7 linked regions of the Homo sapiens genome follow. The protein of the gene in region 1 purifies or fractionates together with the protein of each later gene. This does not show direct contact. Each region holds a gene or a part of one and is shown in the gene's direction. Other genes may lie near its edges. The genes, in order: SMYD2, AKAP11, ARL1, RPP30, GSKIP, AHI1 and EIF4E.

The links.
Region 2: the proteins of SMYD2 (region 1) and AKAP11 purify together in Homo sapiens (affinity purification with mass spectrometry; one large-scale study listed by BioGRID and IntAct). This does not show direct contact.
Region 3: the proteins of SMYD2 (region 1) and ARL1 purify together in Homo sapiens (affinity purification with mass spectrometry; one large-scale study listed by BioGRID and IntAct). This does not show direct contact.
Region 4: the proteins of SMYD2 (region 1) and RPP30 purify together in Homo sapiens (affinity purification with mass spectrometry; one large-scale study listed by BioGRID and IntAct). This does not show direct contact.
Region 5: the proteins of SMYD2 (region 1) and GSKIP purify together in Homo sapiens (co-immunoprecipitation; one large-scale study listed by IntAct). This does not show direct contact.
Region 6: the proteins of SMYD2 (region 1) and AHI1 purify together in Homo sapiens (co-immunoprecipitation; one large-scale study listed by IntAct). This does not show direct contact.
Region 7: the proteins of SMYD2 (region 1) and EIF4E purify together in Homo sapiens (co-immunoprecipitation; one large-scale study listed by IntAct). This does not show direct contact.

What each region holds. Positions count from the first base shown.
Region 1 is NC_000001.11:214,335,395-214,337,631, forward strand, and holds the end of SMYD2 (N-lysine methyltransferase SMYD2), read left to right. Parts: intron 1-1,309; coding exon 1,310-1,390; 3' UTR 1,391-1,737; downstream 1,738-2,237. UniProt on the Homo sapiens protein: Protein-lysine N-methyltransferase that methylates both histones and non-histone proteins, including p53/TP53 and RB1. Specifically trimethylates histone H3 'Lys-4' (H3K4me3) in vivo. The activity requires interaction with HSP90alpha.
Region 2 is NC_000013.11:42,306,652-42,310,151, forward strand, and holds part of AKAP11 (A-kinase anchor protein 11), read left to right. Parts: intron 1-1,802; coding exon 1,803-1,958; intron 1,959-3,500. UniProt on the Homo sapiens protein: Binds to type II regulatory subunits of protein kinase A and anchors/targets them.
Region 3 is NC_000012.12:101,401,273-101,404,772, reverse strand, and holds part of ARL1 (ADP-ribosylation factor-like protein 1), read left to right. Parts: intron 1-1,826; coding exon 1,827-1,908; intron 1,909-3,500. UniProt on the Homo sapiens protein: GTP-binding protein that recruits several effectors, such as golgins, arfaptins and Arf-GEFs to the trans-Golgi network, and modulates their functions at the Golgi complex.
Region 4 is NC_000010.11:90,885,474-90,888,973, forward strand, and holds part of RPP30 (ribonuclease P protein subunit p30), read left to right. Parts: intron 1-338; coding exon 339-428; intron 429-3,500. UniProt on the Homo sapiens protein: Component of ribonuclease P, a ribonucleoprotein complex that generates mature tRNA molecules by cleaving their 5'-ends. Also a component of the MRP ribonuclease complex, which cleaves pre-rRNA sequences.
Region 5 is NC_000014.9:96,384,026-96,387,525, forward strand, and holds the end of GSKIP (GSK3B-interacting protein), read left to right. Parts: intron 1-598; exon of another isoform or gene 599-787; intron 788-1,497; coding exon 1,498-1,659; 3' UTR 1,660-3,263; downstream 3,264-3,500. UniProt on the Homo sapiens protein: A-kinase anchoring protein for GSK3B and PKA that regulates or facilitates their kinase activity towards their targets.
Region 6 is NC_000006.12:135,459,741-135,463,240, reverse strand, and holds part of AHI1 (jouberin), read left to right. Parts: coding exon 1-116; intron 117-3,500. UniProt on the Homo sapiens protein: Involved in vesicle trafficking and required for ciliogenesis, formation of primary non-motile cilium, and recruitment of RAB8A to the basal body of primary cilium.
Region 7 is NC_000004.12:98,919,134-98,922,633, reverse strand, and holds part of EIF4E (eukaryotic translation initiation factor 4E), read left to right. Parts: intron 1-3,500. UniProt on the Homo sapiens protein: Acts in the cytoplasm to initiate and regulate protein synthesis and is required in the nucleus for export of a subset of mRNAs from the nucleus to the cytoplasm which promotes processes such as RNA capping, processing and splicing.

The sequences.
Region 1 (2,237 bases):
TCTGAGCAAGGAACATGAGTCTTGAAATGAATGCCTGGGCAGAGTCGGCACCTGGAACAGGTGATTTCCGAAGGCTTGCACTGTTACTTGGCCTGCCTCCTCTTGGCTTGAGATCTAGGAGGAGAATATATAATAGATAGGAATGCCTGTCATAGTCACAGGCCATTAAAAATTCTCTGGGGGAATACTTTTTTCTCTGAGTAATTTGGCTGAATACAAAAGAGCAAATACATTCTTAGAGATGACATTTGATATAAACTTCCTGTATGCCAGGCGCTGTTCGAAACACTGTATCTGAATTAACAACCCTGAGAGGTAGGTATTATTCCAGTTTTACAGTTCAGGAAAATGAGGCACAGAGTGGTTAAGTAAATTACCCAAGGCCACACAGCTAGGAAATGATTAAACCACTGGAAACTTGACCATGTTACATTGCCTCACTATAAAGAAACCTTAAGTACATTCTCTAGCATCCCTCAATGAAACCTGCTACCTTTCTTTTAAGTTTTTAGAATATGTATTAAAAGGAAAGAGTATGCTTTTCGAAAGGGAAAAATAGTTTAGCTACGTCTTGCAGGTTAGTAATGTCAACTAAAAATCAAAATAGCTTTGATATAAAATTCACTATGGACTTTACCAGCATCACCTATTTTCTGGGTTGAACATAATCAAAAAAATTAGTCCTTAAAGCATGTTTTACTGAAAGATCTAGAATCTTGGGGCAAGAGAATGTCATGAAATCAGTTTCATGACATCGTTTCTCCAGCTGGATATTTTTGCAGAATGTTTTACCTAGCAGTAGACACTGGATGAGTTAGCTACCAGATGGTCTTCTCCTTTTTTAAAAAAAAACCAAGGCCAGGCACGGTGGCTCATGCCTGTAATCCCAGCACTTTGAGAGGCCAAGGCGGGCGGATCACGAGGTCAGGAGATCGAGACCATCCTGGCTAACACAGTGAAACCCCGTGTCTACTAAAAATACAAAAAATTAGCCAGGCATGGTGGTGGGCGCCTGTGGTCCCAGCTACTCGGGAAGCTGAGGCAGGAGAATGGCGTGAACCCGGGATGCGGAGCTTGCAGTGAGCGGAGATCGCACCACTGCACTCCAGCCTGGGCGACAGAGCGAGACTCCGTCTCAAAATAAATAAATAAATTAAAATAAAAACAGGTCCTGGTGGAGAACATAGGCTCTAATGGCCAGTTTGCATCCTGTGCCTTAAAGCAGAGAGATCCAACTTAAAGTTACCCTGGGTGGAGGTGTGAGGAGATTGGCTTCTAGGCTCTCATTGTTTGTCTTGCTTTTTCCTAGGCCATTGCAATCATGGAAGTAGCTCACGGCAAAGATCATCCATATATTTCTGAGATCAAACAGGAAATTGAAAGCCACTGAAACTATGCAGCATTTCAGTTTTCATTTAAACACTTAGTTCAGAAACCTTAAAGGATTTGAATATTTCAAATTGCACACGTCACTCCAGCATCTCTGTAAAATAATTGGAATGAAAATACTTCTTGCACTTAAACACTGCACATGCCGTACTTTGAGGTTAGTCTGAATCTTGAACTTTAATACCAAATTAATTTTGAATGCTTTTGTTTCCTAAGAGATAATGGCATGGTTTCATATGTTATACTTTGGACAGACAGAGTTTTAAAAATGGAATTATTTTTTCTTTCATGCCTCTTGTAATGTTCTGAACAAACTTGAATGATGAAAGTATTAAAGAGATATCAGTATTTGAGGTTTGTATTTTCTTCTGTCTCTGGGGAGGATTTCTCAGTGGTGGTGGGAGCCCAGTCTTGGAGTGAAAGTGACACCTGCTGTCCATAATTCAGCAAGCTCAAGTCTTCTCCATGGGACTGGGGTCGGGCAGCCTCTTTATTCTGCAGTTGCTCTTGTGGGGCTGTGCCTGTGGAGGAAGAAAATGGGAAGAAAGAGAAAAAGGTACACGAAGGAAAGAAAACTATCATCTATCTGTGGTGGAGGAACAGTCCAGTGACCCAAGTGCCCTCCAGCAGGCGAGGTTTTGAATCTGTTCTCTGGTGCCTGGTATTCCTTCAGTGTGTAAAGGTGCTTAGTGCGTGCTTTGCTTTCTTGGCTTTTCTGTCCCCATCTGTCTGAAAGCAGACTTGCCATCTCTCATTCTGTTGATTGTTCTGTGCAGTACTCTCCTTTTTGGAAAAACTCCAGGGTATGCTTGGGAAGGAAAAAAATGTTTTTCCTTACCAACCAACGC
Region 2 (3,500 bases), on another chromosome or scaffold:
TAAAGTTAAATTTGTCTTTCAAACTTGAAAGGAGATTCATTCAGATGGATTATTCTTTAAGGTATTATTTCACCTGATGTCCCTTTTTGTTTGATTCATGAACATGACCATAAATATTTCACAAACTGTAATGAACAGAGAGGTGGCATGTGAATGCAATTGGGAAATTATGTGATAGTACATTTTTATTCATTTTTGTTTGTTGTTGTTTGTTTGTAGAGATGAGATCTCACTATGTTGCTCAGGCTGATCTTGAATTCCTGAGCTCAAGCAATCCTCCTGCCCTAGCCTCCCAAAGTGCTGAGATTGCAAGCATGAGCCACCGTGCCTGGCTGATAGTGCATTTTTAGCCAACAAAACGATTATATTCTAAGCTATCATTCCGAGCCAAAATAACCTCACAGTCATTATAAACTCTTCTCTGGACCTCATCCTTTGGGTCATTTCAGCCAAAAACCATGAGAATGTGGCACATATTAGGAAAAGTATTCAAAAAAACAAAGTAGTAATCTATCAATGGTTCAGAACTATAATGTGCCTATGCTTGGAATGCTCAGTATCATTCTGTATCTTACAAAATTAGAATAGCTGAAAAAATGGGGGGCAATTCAGGGGCTATTCTCAGGATAGCACTAGGGATACGGAAGTAAGTAAAACAGGCAAAAATCTGCATTCTCTTGGAGCTTATGTTATAGTGGAATAAGACAATAGGTAAGTAAAATATATAGTATGTCACATAGTGATAAGTGCTTTGGGGGAAAAATAAAGCAAGGTAGGGAGTTAGGGAGTTAGAGAGTGCTGGTGGTGACAGTGGCGGTGGCCATTAGGGCTGGTTTACAGTTTTGGATAGGTAGCAGGGGAAACAATACTGGCAAAGTGATACTTGAGCCAAAAACCAAAAGTGAAATGAGAATAAGTCATGTGGGAGTCACCGAGAACAGATTTCCAGGCCTAGGGGTGGGACTGTGCATGTTTGGGAAACAACAGAGAGGCTTGTATTGCTGAAGTGGGAGGAGTGGGCCAGGGAGAACATAGGAGGAGTGGGCCAGGGAGAACAGTAGGAGTTCAGATGGATGTTATAAGAGGGGACAGGCAGTATGTTTTAAGGATTTGGGCTCTTCGGCTTGGTGGGAAGCCATTGGAAGGTTTTGATCCGAAGACTGACATTTTTTCTTTTTATGGAAACATCACTTTGAACTACTTTGTTGAACATAAAATGTAGTGGGACAATTAAAATAGTTGAGCAGTGAATGGACTTTCTTGTGATGATGGAATAAAAGTATAAATGCCTCTTATTGAGAAAAATGAAAGGGGTTATGATCTATGTTCAAAATCTTGAAGAGATTTGGTTAGTTTGAATACAGGCTTGGTTGACAATACTAGAATTTCTTGAACGACTTTTTTGTTCTTAAAGCCAGAAAGAGACTCCTTTAACATAAATAAAAGTACTGTTTTACAAAGCAGATGATAACTTAGGAACTTGTACTGCCCCATGGTATCTCAGTTGAAAAATGAACTGCTTTAAGTAGAATTTAGAGAAATAATGCCCTAGGGATAGATCCATTGTAGATTAACAAAGTAAGTTATGGCTGTTGGTGGGTACCTCAGTTAACTTTGAAATTAATACGCTATCCTACAGTCTGTTTGTTGGCAGACTCAAATAAAGGATTACATGAGCCACTGGTCTGATTCCGAATACCATTTCTTGTTTTTATCATCTTTGTCATCAAATTGATAGTCTTGTAAGTTCAGAATCTGGGATGCTTTCAATTTGATTTTTTTTCTTTTTTTCTTCTTTTTAGTTCAAAAGAAATAGAAGACTTTCAGTCAACCGAGTCTGTCAGTAGCCAGCAGATGAACCTCAGTATTGGTGATGACAGCACTGGTAGCTGGTCCAATTTAAGTTTTGAAGATGAACACCAAGATGAAAGCAGCAGTTTTCATCATCTAAGTGAAAGGTAACTACACTTTTGCATATAATTGTGTAGTTTAGGTCCTCAGATCTTAGAAGTGAGCTATAAATTTACATTATTATTTAAAAATTCTAAATTTGAAAATATGCTATTACTTTCAAAATGTATTTTATTATTCACAATGTATTTCTAATTGTTTTTAACACTTATTTAATACAGTAAGTAGCCCAGCTAATTTTATTGGGGTGTGCCAATAGTTGATTTGAAAAATATTGCATACATTTAATTTTATGCCTTTTAAGCTTCTCCCAAACTTTTTATGAACTTCTGAGGAAAAATTTTTTTTTTCACTTTAAAAAGGGTACTTTTTTTTCTTTAAAGAACAAGAAAAAGGACAGGTATCTGTAAAAGGCATCAAAGTAGCCCTGTACTTTTCCTGACATTAGTTAAAATAGTATCTTTTTGGTGGGGCGAGGGTCCCTGCTTGTCCTGCTGTTAGGAACAAAATGACCTGGAAGACTTATGCTTGAATGATTGAAAATACGTAAGTCAAAGCCATTATAAAAATGTGATTTTGTATAGCACAAGGCACTTACCTCATATATAACTTTTCTTAGTTAACTTTGTTCATAACAGTGGTGTTTGAAATATTTTATTAATTATGAGACAGTTGTTTCTTATAGTCTTAACCTCTACCTAAAGGCATTTCTGACTAACCTATAAAATTCTATAAACTCTTTATCCACATTAAGTGATAACTGGAAATAATAGATACCATTTGTAGCAGAGTCTTGAGGGAGGAAAGGGTTCTTAGCATATTGCTGGTTTCAGGCATGTGTGGAAAGGACCTGTGGACCATCAGTTGAACTTAGCCCCTGGAAATGGCAAACTAGGTGTGGGAGGGAAGGCAACTCTTGGAAAAGGGAATGAGGTAGCATAAGGAAAGGAAATGGCTTTTCACCTGATAGAACACTTCATCTCGAAGAGTTTTGTTCGATGCTTGGATTAACCTGGAAATATTAATATTTTTGTAAAGTATATTTTGTCATAGTTTATTATGGTGCTATATAAACCACCAATATTTCTTAAAATCTAGGTCCAAAAAGACAGTGTTTAAAACTGGTAGAAGCAAGTGGGGGCAATGTCACAAATCATGATTTGGCCCTTTTCTATAACTTTATCTAGAAAAGGATACTAACATTTAGTTTCTTCTCTCATTTTGAGAAACACAGGCTTCTATGATTTCAGTGGGGTTGACAGTGTTGCCTAGGAAATCCTGGCGTTAAAATGGGAGATTGAGGTGTGGGTAGAGGCTTTAAGCATTAAGAGGACTTGTAGTCAGTTGAACAACTCTGTGCTGAATATTATCTAATTTGATGAGAAAAAGGAGTCGTCTTACCGGTTTCTGTCCTTGGTTCTGTCCTCCTTAGCATTATTTATTAATGATGTGGAATACTCATTTGTGGATGATTCAACACAGGCTGAAAAAAGAATCTCATTAACAGAACAAAGGTTAAAAAGACCAAATCAAGCTGAGGTTAAAATAATTATGTTTAACATGGATAAATGCATTTAGGCTCAGAAAAT
Region 3 (3,500 bases), on another chromosome or scaffold:
CTGTTGTTATTTATACTTTTTTCATTTGTTGCCTTGAATTTACTTAGAGAAGAGTAGTACATTTAAATTAAAGAGTTCATACAGTTTGCTCAAGATTTTTTAAATTATGCCTCTAATGTTAGTCTGTCACTCAGGGTATTTCTATATTGTTACTGTTTAAATTTATGGACTAAAACGAAAGAGGCTAGCCTCTAAGAAAGAAGAGCGTTTTGAACCCTGTAATGTCTGTTATTCCTTTTTGCTACCTTCAGTAAATTTTAGTGCCCTTAGTTTTTGCTTCTCAAAATCACCCATCTCTGTCTGGGCATCTCCTGCAGTGCACAGAGCAGCACAGTGGATAGTTTGGAGTTTCAGTGAGTGCTGCTTTACACCACACTCTTTGTTGAGACAGTGTCTTGCTTTTTTGCCCAGGCTGGAGTGCAGTGGCACATTCATAGCTCACTGCAGCGTCTACCTCTACCTCTACCTCCTGGGCTCAAGCGATCTTCCCACCTCAGCCTCCCAAAGTGTTGGGATTACAGGCATGAGCCACTGCACCCAGTCTACACCATTCTCTTGTCTTGCACATATAAACGATGTTTTTTACTGTTGGTGAACATTGTGATTACACTCCTACCTAATTCTAAGGGAGACATCATGAACTTGCATTTTAGTTTTTTGCTCAAATTTGTCATAGTATTGTTATTTTTTAATTGTAATAGACATACTTGCCAAATACTCAAAGGTATCACTTACCACTGCAGACTTAAATATAAAACAAAAGCTAATTGTCCAGTTATACCTGGAAGTTATTTTTTATTTATTTATTTTTTTGAGACAGAGTCTCACTCTATTGCCCAGGCTGAAGTGCAGTGGCAAGATCTCGGCTCACTGCAACCTGTGCCTCCCAGGTTCAAGCGATTCTCATGCATCAGCCTCCAGAGTGGCTGGGATTACAGGCATGTGCCACCACACCCGGCTAATTTTTGTATTTTTAGAAGAGATGGGGTTTCACAGTGTTGGCTAGGCTGGTCTCGAACTCCTGACCTCAGGTGATCCACCCGCCTTGGCCTCCCAAAGTGCTGGGATTACAGGTGTGAGCCACCGCACCCAGCCATGGAAGTTATTTTTTACCTATTTTTCACCTAAGAAGGATGGCAGAGAAAAGGGATGGGACACCTGCCCTTTGACCACCCAGCCATGACCTTATTACAAGTGAGTTCTGGAGGATGTCTGCAGATGGGCTGTGAGATTGAAAGCTGCAGCCATGGCTGTGTCCATGCTGTAGTTTAGAACTGAAGTTTAGCTTTTTTTCTTTTGGTCTGTTTATTTGCTGCCAGCCAAAATTCTGCTTTTTATAGTACATCCACAACTGTACTTTCTAAATACAGCTTTCGAACACTTTTAACTACTCTATTATGAGGGGAGTTTAATATAATAGGATTTCCATTGAGCTAAAAATTATGTTTTCCTTTTTATTTCTTTTTTAAATTCTTTTTTTAATTTATTTGAGCTAAAATTATATACTTTATTTGCAGAACTGCTGGCTTTTAAAAAATATCCTGAAGATGGTATTGATCTTGCTAATTGATGTTTTGTGCACACACCTGCACATGTGTGGGGGAGCAGAGCATACTATTTCGTCTTAAATGGTATAAAATCTCAACCAATAATGTGATTCAACAATTACCATTTCTTTTTAACTCGAATCCTAAGACAAATTATATATATATATATTTTAAACTCTAATAACAGTTACCATTAATTGCTGTAACTCAATTAGATAGGATATTTTGAAGGTGGAATGTATTAGTCTACACATACCACTGATTTGATTTCTCTTCCAGCCATTGGATTTAATGTAGAGACGGTGACGTACAAAAACCTTAAATTCCAAGTCTGGGATTTAGGAGGACAGACAAGTATCAGGTATGGTACAAAGACCAGGTTATTTGGTAGTATTTGACATTTATTGATTCTTTTAAGGGTTAAAATCAGTAAACCCGAATATGTGTTCTATTGTAATTTAAATGGAGCCACCTAGTTTAAAATGAGGTAAAATTGGGAACTATTTCCTTAGAGCATCCATTGAGTTAAAACTTAAGGAAGCCCAGTTTTCCAGATACCTGTTTAATGAAAATCTTTTCACGAAAATCTCAAGACCTTATTACTTCAGCTATTCTCAATTAGAAAGGACCCTCCATTTAGTTCTTGTCAGTCTCTCCTCTCTGAAACACATTGTTTTGGAATTCATTAAAGTACCTTGCAGGCATACCATTTAGGGCTAATATAAAAATAAATGCCATTGGCCGGGCATGGTAGCTCACGCCTGTAATCCCAGCACTTTGGGAGGCCGAGGTGGGCGGATCATCAGGTCAGGAGTTGGAGACCAGCCTGACCAACATGGTGAAACCTCGTCTCTACTAAAAATACAAAAATTAGCTGGGCATGGTGGTGCGTGCCTATAATTCCAGCTACCTGGGAGGCTGAGGCAGGAGAATTGCTTGTACCAGGACTTGGGAGCTGGAGGTTGCAGTGAGCTGAGATCGCGCAACTGCACTCCAGCCTGGGCTACAGAGCAAGACTCTGTCTCAAAAAAAATAAATGAATAAATAAAAAATAAATGCCTTCTGAAGTTCAGGTCTTCTGCTTAGCATTTTGGGCTTGACATGGCAACAGTGAATGTTTGATGACCGTCAGTAGTTGGTCACGATAGTACCATCTTAAAAGATTAGTAATGCATTCTCCAAACATTCTGACTTCTTTTAACTCATTTCTTGAATCACGTTTCTTTTTTTTTAAATTGTGCAGCCTCCCAAGCCAGAGTAGGCTCAGAGAGACTCCATTGAATCACTTTTGAGTTTATTTATAATTTTAGCCATTTCTACTGCTTGATGTCAGTGATTAATTTCATGACTGTTAAATAAAATCACGTTTAAAAAGTTTATTCCTCTTAAGGGGTGCCTAGTTAAAGATTTGTTTAAGAAGATGTAATGATCAGGTCTGTGTACAACTTTTCTATCAGTATATTTAGTGATTTCATAGATTATAAATAAATTTTGTCAGCCTGAAGTCTGAATGAATTCATTTGGAAACTCCCTGGTCCTGTGAGTCAATGTTTATCAACATTCTTTTTTTTTTTTTTTTTTTTTTTTTTGAGACAGAGTTTCACTCTTGTTGCCCAGGCTGGAGTGCAATGGCACCATCTCAGCTCACTGGAACCTCTGCCTTCCTGGTTGAAGTGATTTTCCTGCCTCAGCCTCCCGAGTAGCTGGGATTACAGGCACCTGCCACCATGTCCAGCTAATTTTGTATTTTTAGTAGAGATGGGGTTTCTCCATGTTGGTCAGGCTGGTCTCGAACTCCCGACCTCAGTTGATCTGCCCTCCTCAGCCTCCTAAAATGCTGGGATTACAGATGTGAGCCACCGTGCCCAGCCAATGTTTATCAACATTCTTTTGACTCCATCACATCTGAGGGATATGGTACATATATCCACCAGAAACAGTGAATCATTAAGG
Region 4 (3,500 bases), on another chromosome or scaffold:
TTTCTGGGACAGTCTGAAGTAACCTTCCAGAAACTGAGCCTCGCTCTGCAACCCATCCTTATGTAGAAGACCATATGAGTTAGAGAGTCTCCAGGCCCTATCTTTTGAGAAAGTCTGTGGACATATTCCGCTTTTGCTGGATTACAGTTAAACCATTTAAACCAAACCTAAAAGAGTAGCAAAACAGTTGACTTTGTAAAAGGTCAGATGTATTTCAACACAGAACCATCAAAACACCTATGGAGTGAACCATACTTTATATCGAGTTTGACCCTATCTCCCATTCTTACTTGTGCCAATTTTCCTTTTGGCCTTACCTATTTTTTTCTTCTTTACAGATTGCTTGCACACATTTAGATGTGGATTTAGTCTGCATAACTGTAACAGAGAAACTACCATTTTACTTCAAAAGACCTCCTATTAATGTGGTAAGTGTACTTTCCATTCTGTATTTGAATCTTAGAAACTTACATTAGCAAATTGGAAAAGAAGCAGAAGAAATCAGTGTTCTTAGAAGGAAAAACAAAGGCTAGGGAATAGGAGGCAGTTTTAGAAAAGAGAATTTTCGTTTTGAAAGCTGAACAAAGGGAGAAAGAAAGCTTAAAATTAAAAATATCCAGTTAATTATTAAGATGTTTTTAAAAGGCCATAGAACCCAAAATTTATAAAGGATATTTCTTAAGAGGATAGCTAATAATCATGGGTACTTATAACCTGAACATCAATTATTAAGGGAACAGAGCAGTCAAAAAAGAAGAGGAAGGGAAAAAATAAAAAGCAGAGGATCCTTGAGGCACCAGGAAGCTAAAGAGAGTCAAGAGGGAACAGGGCATGGCATCACATAGACGTGGTCTATGCAAAATTAAAATCTGTGTTGAAGCATGCTTATTCACAAAGAGCCCAGAGTTACTTTTATATGAACCTAATAGGATGGCCATGTGTTCAGAAAACTTTTTTGTTTCTCCCTCTGCTATAGAATTTTTCTCATTCCCCTTCTACATAGTTTTCTCTTGTTTTCCCATACCCTTCATCTTCTATCTGTCCATTCCTTCTTCTGTCTTAATTTCCTCCCATTTCCATCATAAGGTAATATTATTTCACACCAGTAACTATTTTAGTAGCAAAAGGTCAGCACAGCTGTTAACTATTTGCTTTGCCAGTCAGATCCTAGGAGGAGTTCAGATGCTATTTTAGAGTAGTGGCTTCCAAAACCCTAGTCTCCTGTTCTCAAAAACTGGTATCCAAGGAGAAAAAAAAGAGTTTAGCAAATACAGTCAAAATTACATATCCAATCCTGTCAGAATCAGAAGATTAATTTTTTTTAAGTTTTTCAAAGGATAATTCCCTTGCTCTTTTGCCTCTGTAGAATCATAACTTTCTCAATTTTAATTCTCTTTGGTGCTAAGGAATTGGCTTGAGAATTAGAGGGAGACAGTAAGAGGAGAAAATGGAAAATTAGTATGTGAAAATTCAGTGTGGCAAAAATTATTAGTAGTAGTAGTAGTAGTAGTAGAGACAGGGTGTCACTCTATTGCCCAAGCTAGAGTGCAGTGGCATGATCATAGCTCACTGCAGCCTCAACTTCCTGGGATCAAGTGATCCTCCTACCTCAGCCTCCTGAGCAATTGGGACTACAGGTGCATGCCACCACACCTGGCTAATTTTTTTATGTTTTGTAAAGTTGAGGTCTCACCATGTTTCCCAGGCTGGTCTCAAACTCCTGGGCTCAAGCAATCCTCCCACCTCAGCCTCCCAAAGTGCTCAGCTTACAGGCATGAGCCACCATGCCTGACCCACCCAATGGGGAAAAGTTTAAGTTAGCTTATGTTCTACCCCTAAAAATATGCTACTCAAACTAAAAATATATCATCATATATTTCAAGGGAAAAACATAAAAGCTCTTGTTGGGTAAATTTTTTTTTTTTTTTTGAGACGGAGTCTTGCTGTCACCCAGGCTGGAGTACAGTGGCACGATCTCGGCTCACTTCCACCTCCACCTCCCTGGTTCAAGCAATTCTCCTGCCCCAGCCTCCTGAGTAGCTGGGATTACAGGTGCACACCACCATGTCCGGCTAATTTTTGTATTTCTTTTTAGTAGAGATGGGGTTTTACCATGTTGGCCAGGCTGGTCTCAAATTCCTGACCTTGTGATCCGCCCGCCTCAGCCTCGCCAAATGCTGGGATTACAGGCGTGAGCCACCACACCCGGCCTAGGGTAAATATTGACAGTACTAGTGAACATAACAATATTGGCTGAGCTCAAATCATTGGTTCCTTGTGTTATTGCCAGTACTTATAAATAAATAAGTAAACAGTGAAAAACCACTGAATCACCACATTTTCGAGTTGGAAATCTATGTTGTGCAACAGTTCATTTGTCAAATGTGGGGAAATGAAAAACTACAAGAAGTCATTCAGTTCTGTAGTCACACAGGGTTAGGAAAGTTCTGATTGGTTGTCTGTCAAGATCTCTGATGTGCCCCAGGTACCTATGATAAAAGCCACAAATTAATACAGTACTCAAGGTTATGGCAGTCTTGTTGGCCTCACATATTGTTTCTCTCCAGAGGTAGCAATCTCTGTCTTTAGAAGTTTGCCTAACCTTTTTACCAGCCTCAAACTGCCAATACAGTTTCTGTGGAAGTAGCACCCCCAGAGTTGGGCACTATAGCTACTCAGCAAATTGCTAGTGAACTTGCAACTTTTTCACCTTTTTCTTCATCTTAATGAACTAGGAAGGTCATTTTCTAGATGGCTTTGCCTGAATAAGCCCACATACGATACTGTGACCTTTGATGGGAGGAGCTAGCATGTGATGTTAAGGCCAAGTCCATGGAATGGACAGCAATGCACAACAGATAATTCCTCATGTCTCACGACAGTGGTAAGATTCCCAGTGGCTGCTTTGGTGAGAGCTTTTAATTGGGGTTCTTAGGAACTTGTATTATTATTTAAACCAGAGTGTGAGCTCCTAGAGAACACCGGCTGTCATGGTCCTTTTTTAAGTACTCCACTATCTTGCGTATAATGAGTCCTCCTTACAGTTTGTTGAGTCAATAAGTACATGTTGAACTTAGCATATCAGGGTACAGCATAGGGGACCTGGCCAAATTCTGCTCGTTGTTAGTCACCAGCTGGATGTCCACATTCATCAGGAAGTATATGCCGTGAGGGAAGTGGGGCAGTGGGGCAACATGAGGAGGACAGTGGCACTCAAGACAGTTGACACCAGGACACCCCACCCCCTGATTCCATTGGGAAGTTCAGGAAAGCTCCTTTCGTTTGATGGGCATTTTTCGCTTAATTCCTACATTTTTCAATTTAAGAATTCTGAAAAGTAAAAAATTCTGTCAAGTGAGAGGGATATGCAGTTTAACATGGTGTCTGCTTTAAAAAAAATCTGGTGTGAACATTTTGCATATGTTGTTTAATAAAAACTAGATGATGGAGTGGAAAGAAAGGCTGCACAAGATTATTTTTAGTCTTCATCTAGTAGAAGA
Region 5 (3,500 bases), on another chromosome or scaffold:
CTGCTTCTTAATCTATAACTTGGAGATTTAAAAAAAACTTAAAACGATTTGGGGAATGATTATATGACTGTATGATACAGAAAGATCTGAACCATATGTAAAACCTGACATGTAGTAGGTGCTCAAATATTTGTTTGTTTTTCAGTCTGATTCAGTTAACATTTATTGAGCAACTATCCTGTGTCAGCAATTGAAAATCAAACCATGCATAAGACATGATCCCTGTCCACCAGGAAGATCACAGTCTAGCAGAGATAAGAGGAAGAAGGCAAACTGAACTGTACTCCACTGTAGAGAGTGCAGTAATAGAGCATGGATCTGAAGAGGTGTGATTCATTTTCCTTAGGTGTCTGCCTCTGCTTTTCATTTAAAAAAAAAAAAACTCAGCTTCTATTTCTAACACAAACTTTCACCTCCTATGGCTTAAATAGATGTCATAAAAATTTAGGATTTATATAGGGAATGTACACACTTAAGTCAGCAAAAACTAAATTAATTTTGCCCTATATTGTGCTGGTGAACCATGATATACCTTATAATCTTGTCAAAAAGAAAAGTTGTAGCTGTGTTCACAGGAAAAAAAAAAAAAGAAAAACACATGGCCTGTCAGCCTTTTGCCTAAGATCAATTGGAGTATCTTTTCTTATCAGTTTAATATCTGTTATGTCCTCTATCTAAGGACAATATATTAAATGGATTTTTGGAGCAGGGAGATAGAATAGGCTCTTGCTCCATTAACTTCACACATCGACCTGGTATTGCAAATACCTCCAGAAATAGTGTACCCCTACCAAGAAAAAAAAAACACATTAACATGTTCTTTTATCTCACAGAATTGAGCATTTATTCCCTGTCAGGTAAGAAATATATTAGGTGAAAGTGGCCTTTCAGATTACTAATAATAAAGCTAAACAGTTATTAAAACTAATAAACTATTAAACCAATTATTAATAAACAATTATTAAAATTAACAACTAATTATTAAAACTAAATTATTAGGAATAATTTTTAGAATTGTTTATAAAAGAAGTGAAAAATAATGAAAAAAATATGAACTAATGATATATTACCTATTATAGTACTTAATATAGTGGACCCTCAATATATGTGGAATTAAATGGGGTAAATAATAGATGCATGTTTTAGAATATGAAAATGAAATACCATTTTTGTGTAGCTTTTCAAATTCTTTCTCTGCATTTCCTTGAGCTTCTAAGTAAAACCTTTTAAATGTTGAAAATTCTATAGGGAGCATTTTAGTGGTGTTTCTGTGTTATACATTATAAGTTGCTGAAGTATTAAAGGTTGTATTTAAAATGTGTATACTCTGACTTTGAGAAATAGTTTCACTCAGTTACCCATGTATCTGGTGGTCTAGTGGCTAGGAAAAGAAATAATTTATTTTTTTGAAAGGATGATTACTCACATAAACACTTGGATTTTGCTTTCTGTACCAACATGAAAACTAATGAATTCACTGTTGCATTTCTCTTGTAGGTGGTAGGCTATGCTTTTGACCAGGTAGATGATCATTTACAGACTCCCTACCATGAAACAGTCTACTCCTTGTTGGATACACTCAGCCCCGCCTACCGAGAAGCATTTGGAAACGCACTGCTTCAAAGACTGGAAGCTTTGAAAAGAGATGGACAGTCATGACTACACTTTTTCCTTTCAGAGGGGCTGGTGCTGGTACAGAATGTTGATATAAAGCTTAAAATTCTTGCATATGGTCATAGAAAATGCATCTTTGGTTTTGTGTTTTTATCACTTGCTTCCAACTTAGGCTTTTGGCTCAGAAGATTATTGAATAATGATTTGTCTTAGTTTCTGTTTCAGTAAGGGAATTCTGAGGCCGTTGCTATGATACCATCATTAAGACATTCACATGTCTTCATATAATATCTCTTCATTTCAAATCCTAATCACTATTTCATACTATTACAGGGCTTTGATGCTGCCAGCACTGTCTTTTACATAGGAAATTCTAGATTTGCACAGTAATAGAGGAATTAGAAGTACCTAACTATACACTTTGATTCAGCCTGCTAAATCAGGGGTTCAATACTAGCTTGGACAAACTTTGTAGTAATTAATTGCTACCAGCCTTATTGGAAACAAATTATCAACTAGTTTCCCCTGCACAAATTTTGAAATTCACTGCTTCACTTAATCTATTTATATTACTAATAATGGATTAATAAAGATGAATTAATTATATATTACTTAACTAGTATTAAATGAAAAACAGGGACTGAAATAGTTCTGTATTCCGTGTTTGCAACAGCCAGCCAACTAAGCAGAGGATAAACCGTTAGCAAATGAATGTAATAATTACTCATTTCCAAGATATCTAAGCACATAAGCAAATACAGGAACAGACTTCATTCTTTTTCTTAACAAAAAAGCATCTTCAGTGTGTGATTTAAAAGAAAGAAGATTCTGGTTTCCTAGAAAACAATATTTTGGCCTGTGTTGATTCTTATTCTGAATGTGTGTTTACATAATGTACAGTATATATTCAGAAAGTATTTTTGCTTCAACGTTTACTTTCTATGATGTAGTGCTTTGGTATTCCTACAGCACCCCACCTTCCCCAACAGATGTACAGTGTTCTGTCTCCATTCGAAATCTACAATGTAATATGAGTGCATTGTATGGGTTTGAAACCAAAGGATGAATGAAGCATTCAGAGACTTAATATTTGAAAAAGGAATAGTCAGTATTTTATATTTTATTACAGGTACTGATATTTATAAATTTAATAAACTGTACCATGCTGCTGCATGTTTTCAAGTACATGTTGAACAGTAAGGATTGGGGAGTTGTTTTTTAATGGTCACCTAAAGCAGCTGCTATAGAAATGTTGAACTAAAATTTTGCATCTGGTCATACCTTCATGCATTTATCATTTGCAGATATTTTTCCATCATTATTAAAAAACAGGAACTTTTAGGCTCTGAAGATCATGTGGACCAGAGCAAATTAAAGTTCAGTTTGTGTCACAATTCATTGCCAGACTTCATTGGAATGCTTTGTTTGATGATGTATGTTCATTCTCAGCTTTATTTTCAGATGCTTAACTGGGCAACGAAGTCTAACTTCAGGTTGAACTTTCTCATGTTTAATCTCAGGCTAAATGTAAATGATATTTGTAAAGTTTGAATAAAATTCTGTTTACTCATTTTGAGTTAGTATGAAAAAAAGTGATTGTATGTTTAAGAATTGAAATTGTTCATTTTGTGATAAATGATTAATTCCAAGAGCTTGTTTCCATTTTTTAATTCTGCATTGTTACATTTGGATTTGAAATGACTGAAGTGAGCTTTCTCTTGTTACTACTATGAAAGAGCAATGAGGAACAAGAGGAGAGGACATTAATAAAACTACACAGATATACATGAGAATCTAGATATTAAAACCTCCATTTTACCTGGTCTGTTTAAAGAACTTAACCAGCAGATAGGCCAGGTGTCGTGGCTCACACTTGCAATTCCAGT
Region 6 (3,500 bases), on another chromosome or scaffold:
TTCTTCAGATTCTCATCAAGATGATGAAATAAGCTCAATGGAACAAAGCACAGAAGACAGCATGCAAGATGATACAAAACCTAAACCAAAAAAAACAAAAAAGAAGACTAAAGCAGGTTTGCTATACAAATTAAATGAAAAATTGTGTATGTTGGTAGAAATAACTTGATTCTAGGAATTTTAGCCCTTTAAAACTGATGGGTATACTTGAAAATAATTCAATATAGGATATTTGGTACTTGTTCTTGAATTCATCTAGATTAAAGCACACATGTATTTGTAGCTGTAGGTCTCTGATGAGTTTGTATCACTTGAGTCTTCTCTGATTTTTTTTATTTTTGAGATGGTGTCTTACTCTGTCTCCCAGGCTGGAATGCAGTGGCACGATCTCGGCTCATTGCAACCTCCACCTCCCGGGTTAAAGCGATTCTCCTGCCTCGGCCTCCTGAGTAGCTGGGATTGCAGATGCATGCCACCATACCCGGCTAATTTTTGTATTGTTAGTAGAGACGGGGTTTCACCATGTTGGCCAAGCTGGTCTCGAACTCATGACCTCAAGTGATCCACCTGCCTCAGCCTCCCAAAATGCTGGGGTTACAGGCATGAGCCACCATGCCTGACCTTCTCTGATTCTTGTCATACTTTAAATTCAACTCTAAAATGATACTGACTTTGTAGTTGCTATTGGGTCATAGAGGATTTCTTCTTTAAACCATTGAGTTTACATCCTCTAAATGGTTAGGACTCAGTTGTTGAAAGCTATAAATGGTCAGCAGCCAATAAACATTTCTGATGTTAAGGCTGCATCCTGTCCAACATGGTATCCTCCCAATTCGTCAGCCTAATACCACTTCTTTCCTTTCTCAACTTTTCTCTTTGCCTTGTTGATTTCTGTCTTCTTCTTTTCTTGTTTGTTTTCTCTTATTTTTCTTTACATGTTCTTTTCTACTCATACATCCTTTTTTAGTCTTTCAGTTTCCATTTGATTGGCCAAAAATTGGGATTAAAATGGGCAATTTTAGATTTTATAGTACTTATTCATTAGAAGATGTAAGTGATGATGTTTTGTGGTTTCTATAATTAAAATTTTAAAATCTTTTGTTGAAGCATAATGTGTATATAGATATATATAGAAAAGCACTAAGCAGTATACTTGTTTTATGTGTTTCTATATATATAAAGCACTAAGCAGTATACTCATATACATATTTTTAAAGTTTTTTTCACAAACTGAACATACCTATAAAATCATTACCTAAATTTGGAAACAGAACATCATTAGCACCCAGAAAAATCACCTTCCCGTTAGTTGCCCTGTGGGAGTAACCACTACCTGGACATCTAACAGAGTTTATTTTTGCTTATTTTTATACTTTAATATGAATAGAATGATAAATACTGTGCTCCTTGTGCCTGACTTTTTTTACTCAATGTTAATTTTGTAAGATTTATACTACTGTTGCTTGCATACAGTTGAGCTTATTCATTCTTAATTCTGTTTTTGTATTATTTAGATATCCATTGTGTGAATATACCACAGTTAATTTGCCTATTTTATTGATGGTCATTTGAGTTGTTTCTAGTTTTAGGCAATTATAAGTAAAGCGGTAATTCACATTGCAGTCACGTATTTGGTAAGCACATGCATACCTTTATCTTGGGCATATTGTTAGGAGTAGAATTGCTGTCATAGATTATGTATATTTTTTGCTTTAATAATTACTTCCAGTTTTCCAAAGTTGGTTTACCAGTTGACACTAGCAGTGTTTGAGAGTTCCAGTCACTCCACATCTTTACCAACATGTAATACTGTTTTTTAACGTTTTAGTCATTCTTAGGAGTGACTAAATTTTCCTCATTCTTCAGGAATGTATAGTGATATTCATTTTGGTTTTAATTTTATTTCCATGGTAACTATTGAAGTTGAGTGTTTTCATGTTTATTAACTACTTAGATTTTGACATTTGTAAATATATTCAAGTTGTCTGCATTTTTTAAAACACAGAATTGTCTTTTTCTAATTGATTTGTAGTGATAGGTTTATATACCTCAATATGAGATTATTCTCAGATATAAATACCTACCCACATTTATATCGCAAATGTCGTCCTACTCTGGTTTGATTATTTCTCTCTCATTGGTGTCTTTTGAAAAACAGAAATTTTTGTATTGTCCAGTTTATCCATTTTTTTCCTTTGATGGTAAGTGCTGTGATTTAAGAAATCTTTCCTAAGTTCTGAAGATATTTTTCTAAAAGTTTTATTCTAAAAGTTTTACTGTTTCTGTTTTACTTTCACATTTAGATATGCAGTTCATCAGGAATTGGTTTATGTTTATGATAGGAAGCAGTGATCAAGATATCCATGTGAATATATATTATGATTGACCCAGTACCATTTACTGAAGAGAGTGTCTTTTTCCCTCTGTGTTGCAGTGTCACTTTTCCCATAAATAACATGACTGTGTTACATGTGGATCAGTTTTTGTAGTCTCTATTCTTTTAAATTAGACAGTTTGTACCAACACTACCATGTCTAAATACTGTAGCTTTTTAATAGGTCTTGCTATTTAGTATTATACTCTAGGTTTTTCCTTCTTCATCTGCATTGTCTAGGCTATTCTTTACTTTGCATTTCTGTATGGATTTTAGAAGAGCTTCTCCATTCTCCCTCTTCCTTTTTACCCTCATTCTGTCTTGCAAGCTGTGATTTTGATCTAGACTGGGTGAATCTAAAGAGTCACAGCATAACAACTCTCTAAAGAGACTTGACATTTTTACACAGTATTGATTCTCAGGCTATGAATTTGGTATGCACTTCCATTTATTTGCATCTTATTTAATATATCCCAGCAATATACATTTCAGCAGAATCTCTCCTTAGATTTATTCCTGGGATTTGATGTTTCTTAATGATATTATAAATGGCATTTAAAAAATTTTTGTTTTGTATTTGTTGCTGGTACATATATGTAGAAATGTATTTAAAATTTTTTAACATTGTGTCCATTGATTTGCTAAATTCACTTATTGCAAGAGTTTATTTATTTATTTATTTTTGAGACAGGGTCTTGCCCTGTCACTCAGGCTGGAGTGCAGTGGCGTGATCTCAGCTCACTGCAACTTATACTTCCCAGGTTCAAGCGATCTTCCCACCTCAGTCTTCCAAGTAGCTGGGACTACAGGCATGCACCACCATTCTTGGCTAATTTTTGTAGAGACAAGGTCTCACTACATTTTCCAGGCTAGTCTCAAACTCCTGGGCTCAAGCAGTTCTCCCACCTCAGTCTCCCAGAGTGCTGGGATTACAGATGTGAGCTATCGCGGCCCACAGAGTTTATTCTTACATTGTTTGGATTTTTCTACATATGCAATCATGTAATACGTTAATAACGATAGTTTTATCGCTTCTTTTTCAGTCCTTATGCCTTATCATTTTGCTTGCCTTGATACAAATCAAGATTTAATCTCTTTATTATCAATCTTTTTTTTTTTTTTTTTT
Region 7 (3,500 bases), on another chromosome or scaffold:
CATAGCACTTATTCTATGTTAAGTACCACACTGAATGCTTTACATATATTAACTCATTTATTTCTTTTTTTTTTTTTTTTGAGACAGCGTCTCACTGTTGTCCCAGCTAGAGTACAGTGGCGCGATCTCGGCTCACTGCAACCTCCGCCTCCTGGGTTCAAGTGATTCTCCTGCTTCAGCCTCCTGAGTAGCTGGGACTACAGGCACGTGCCACCACGCCCGGCTAATTTTTGTATTTATAGTAGAGATGGGGTTTCACCATATTGGCCAGGCTGGTCTCGAACTCCTGACCTCGTGATCCGCCCACCTCAGCCTCCCAAAGTGCTGGGATTACAGGCGTGAGCCACCGCGCCAGGCTAACTCATTTAATTCTTAACAGTACAGATGAAGTAACATTGTGTGACTAACTTGCTCCAAAATCACACAGCTATTAAGTGGTGGGGTGGAGTTTAAATTAAAGCAGCCAAAGTGCAGAGTGTATATTCTTAACCGTTGCACTCTTTCAAGTAGGCATGTAATGTGCTTTGCTTGGGTGACTTCAGAAGGGGAGATGTGTTTTGATAAGCTTACTATGTGTTTTGCTACAGCTATAAAATAAAACGTGTGGGCATTTATTTTTAGGCCCTGTTATATTACAATGTTAGATAACAAAAATATATAATCTTGAGGACTAAACCAAGCAATTACACCAATCGTGTTTTAGTAACTAATTGAGAACTTTGTGGATTTCTAAAGAAAGTGGATGGACACTTAACCTTCTCCCCCTTTCTAATTTGATTTCTGGCATTTGCTAGTTCGTATGATTTCCCAGTTAAAATATTTTGCTAGTGAAAAAAGTTTTAGTACATTTTTAAAAGTTTGTGAATTTTGGATTTATTCTAGACTTAACTACCTTAGTACTTTTAGTAATTTTGGTGATAAGTCTGGCAAAGGGTAAAACAGTTGTTTTGAAAAAGTTTAAGCTAAAATGTACACATACGTGTTTCTTGGTGTATTTTAAGCTTGTTACTACAAAATGCTATACAGAAATTAGTTGTAATATTTTTTTCTGTGCTCTGCTCATTACTGTCATTGTAATCTCTACTAAAAATACAAAAATTAGCCAAGCGTGGTCACGGGTGCCTGTAGTCCTAGCTACTTGGGAGACTGAAGCAAGAGAATTGCTTCAACCTGGGAGGTGGAGGTTGCAGTGAGCCGAGATGATGACATTGCACTCCATTACTGTCATTGTAATGAGCAGAGCACAGAAAAAAATATTGTAACTAATTTTGATATATATGTCTACATATATATGTCAACATATTAGTATTGCCGTGAAACTTCTTATGGGGCAGTAAGCCTATGTTGGCACAAAATCTGGTCAGAAGTATTAACTAAGGCAAGAAAGTTTGATATTTTAATTGATATGTGAAATGTATATTTTTTCTTATAGTTCTTTTTCTGATGAATAAATGAATACTTTATAGGTGAGGAATTCATATTTCAAGTGATTTTTAACTTTCTACCACGGTCACATAGTTCCTTAAGTGTTACATACAAAGTTTTGGTGCCGCAAAAGGAATAGCACTTGAATATAAAATTTTTTTTTAATTTTTAGCAAGGCAAGTTATTTTTATAGAACTCATAATTAACATAAGTGAGAGAGAACTCAAACCTGAGTGTCAAGCTTTATTACTATCTTGTGTAAAAAGAGGAACAAATTCAACCAAAACTAAAGTCCATCCTTCAGTAAAACTTGTATGTTAGGGTTGATACTGATGCGTAGGTACACAAATAAGTGTAAAATTCTAACTGAAAGAATATGCCAGATGGTTTATGGATGGTGGGATTAGGAGGGTTAAATTTTTTTCATTTGAACTTGTATACTTTGTTACCATGTTGTGGATTGTAAAATCTGTTTTGGATGTTGGTTTATACATCATGGTATTTAGCTTTTCTTTATTTTTTGTTTTTTTTCTTTGACTTAGTTACATACTCATGGTCCAAAATAGCAATTTGGTAAAGCCTATAGCCCCTATCTTAGAGTGTTTTAAAATGCAGGCCAGGCACAGTGGTTCATGCTTGTAATCCCAGCACTTTGGGAGGCTGAGATGGGCGAATCACCTGAGATCAGGAGTTCGAGACCAGCCTGGCCAAAATGGTGAAACCTTATCTTTACTAAAAATACAAAAATTAGCCGAGCGTGTTCATGGGTGCCTGTAGTCCCAGCTAAGGCTGAGGCAAGAGAATTGCTTGAACCTGGGAGGTGGAGGTTGCAGTGAGCCGAGATGGTGCCATTGCATCCAGCCTGGGCAACAAGAGTGAAACTCCGTCTCAAAAAAAAAAAAGAAAAAAGAATGTTTTAACATGTATTACATAAAATGCATAGGTTTACAAAGGAAACCAATTTATACTGAAGTACAACAAGGATTGAATTAGCATGAGTCATATTAAGGACATTATCTGGCACAGGCTAAGTTCTGTCTAATGTGGAAAACCTATCTCCTGCCTATCTTCCCCAACCACCTCATTCCCCTTTCCAAATTGCCCAATTACAATTTTTTGAGGATTCTACTAGAAAAAGTCTGTCCAGGAGAACTTTCTGAGATAATGGAAAGGGTATTTTTTACTGTCCAATACAGTAGCCACTGGCTGTACATGGTAATTGAGCATTTGGATATTGTGGCTTGTGCAACCAAGGAAATAAATTTTAAACTTTATTTAATATTAATAATTAACCACATGTAGGTAATGGCTACCTAATTGTGCAGTATGGCCTCAGAAGCTAGAAATTCTGGCCGGGCATGGTGGCTCACGCCTGTAATCCCAGCACTTGGGGAGGCTGTGGCAGGTGGAGCACTTGAGGTCAGGAGTTGGAGACCAGCCTGGCCAACATGGTGAAACCCCATCTCTACTAAAAATACAAAAATTAGCTGGGTGTGGTGGCACGTGCCTGTAGTCCCAGCTACTCGGGAGGCTGAGACAGGAGAATCACTTGAACCTGGGAGGCGGAGGTTGCAGTGAGCCAAGACTGCACCACTGCACGCCAGCCTGGGTGATAGAGCAAGACTCCATCTCAAAAAAAAAAAAAAAAAAGAAAAAGAATCTAGAAATTCTGGTGTGTGCAAATGTATGTATACATATTGTATTTAGTTCAACTTTATAAGGTATAACTGGATATGTCCAGTTTGGTTAGATACATGATTCTATCCTAGAAAAGCTTGTCGCTCTGTATTTTAAACTTTGAAAGATAGTTATTTACTCTTGTATAGAATTAGAATTTTTCTGTGGGTTAATGTTTTTTTTTGTTTTTTTTTTTTTTGCTAGTCTTTTTGTTTCTGTTTTTGTTTTGAGATGGTGTCTCACTCTGTTGTCAGGCTGGAGTGCAGTGGCACGATCTCGGGTCACTGCAACATCCACCTCCCGGGTTCAGGTGACTCCTGCCTCAGCCTCCTGAGTAGCTGGGACTACAGGTGTGCGCCACCACTGCCAACTAATTTTTGTGTTTTTAGTAGAGACAG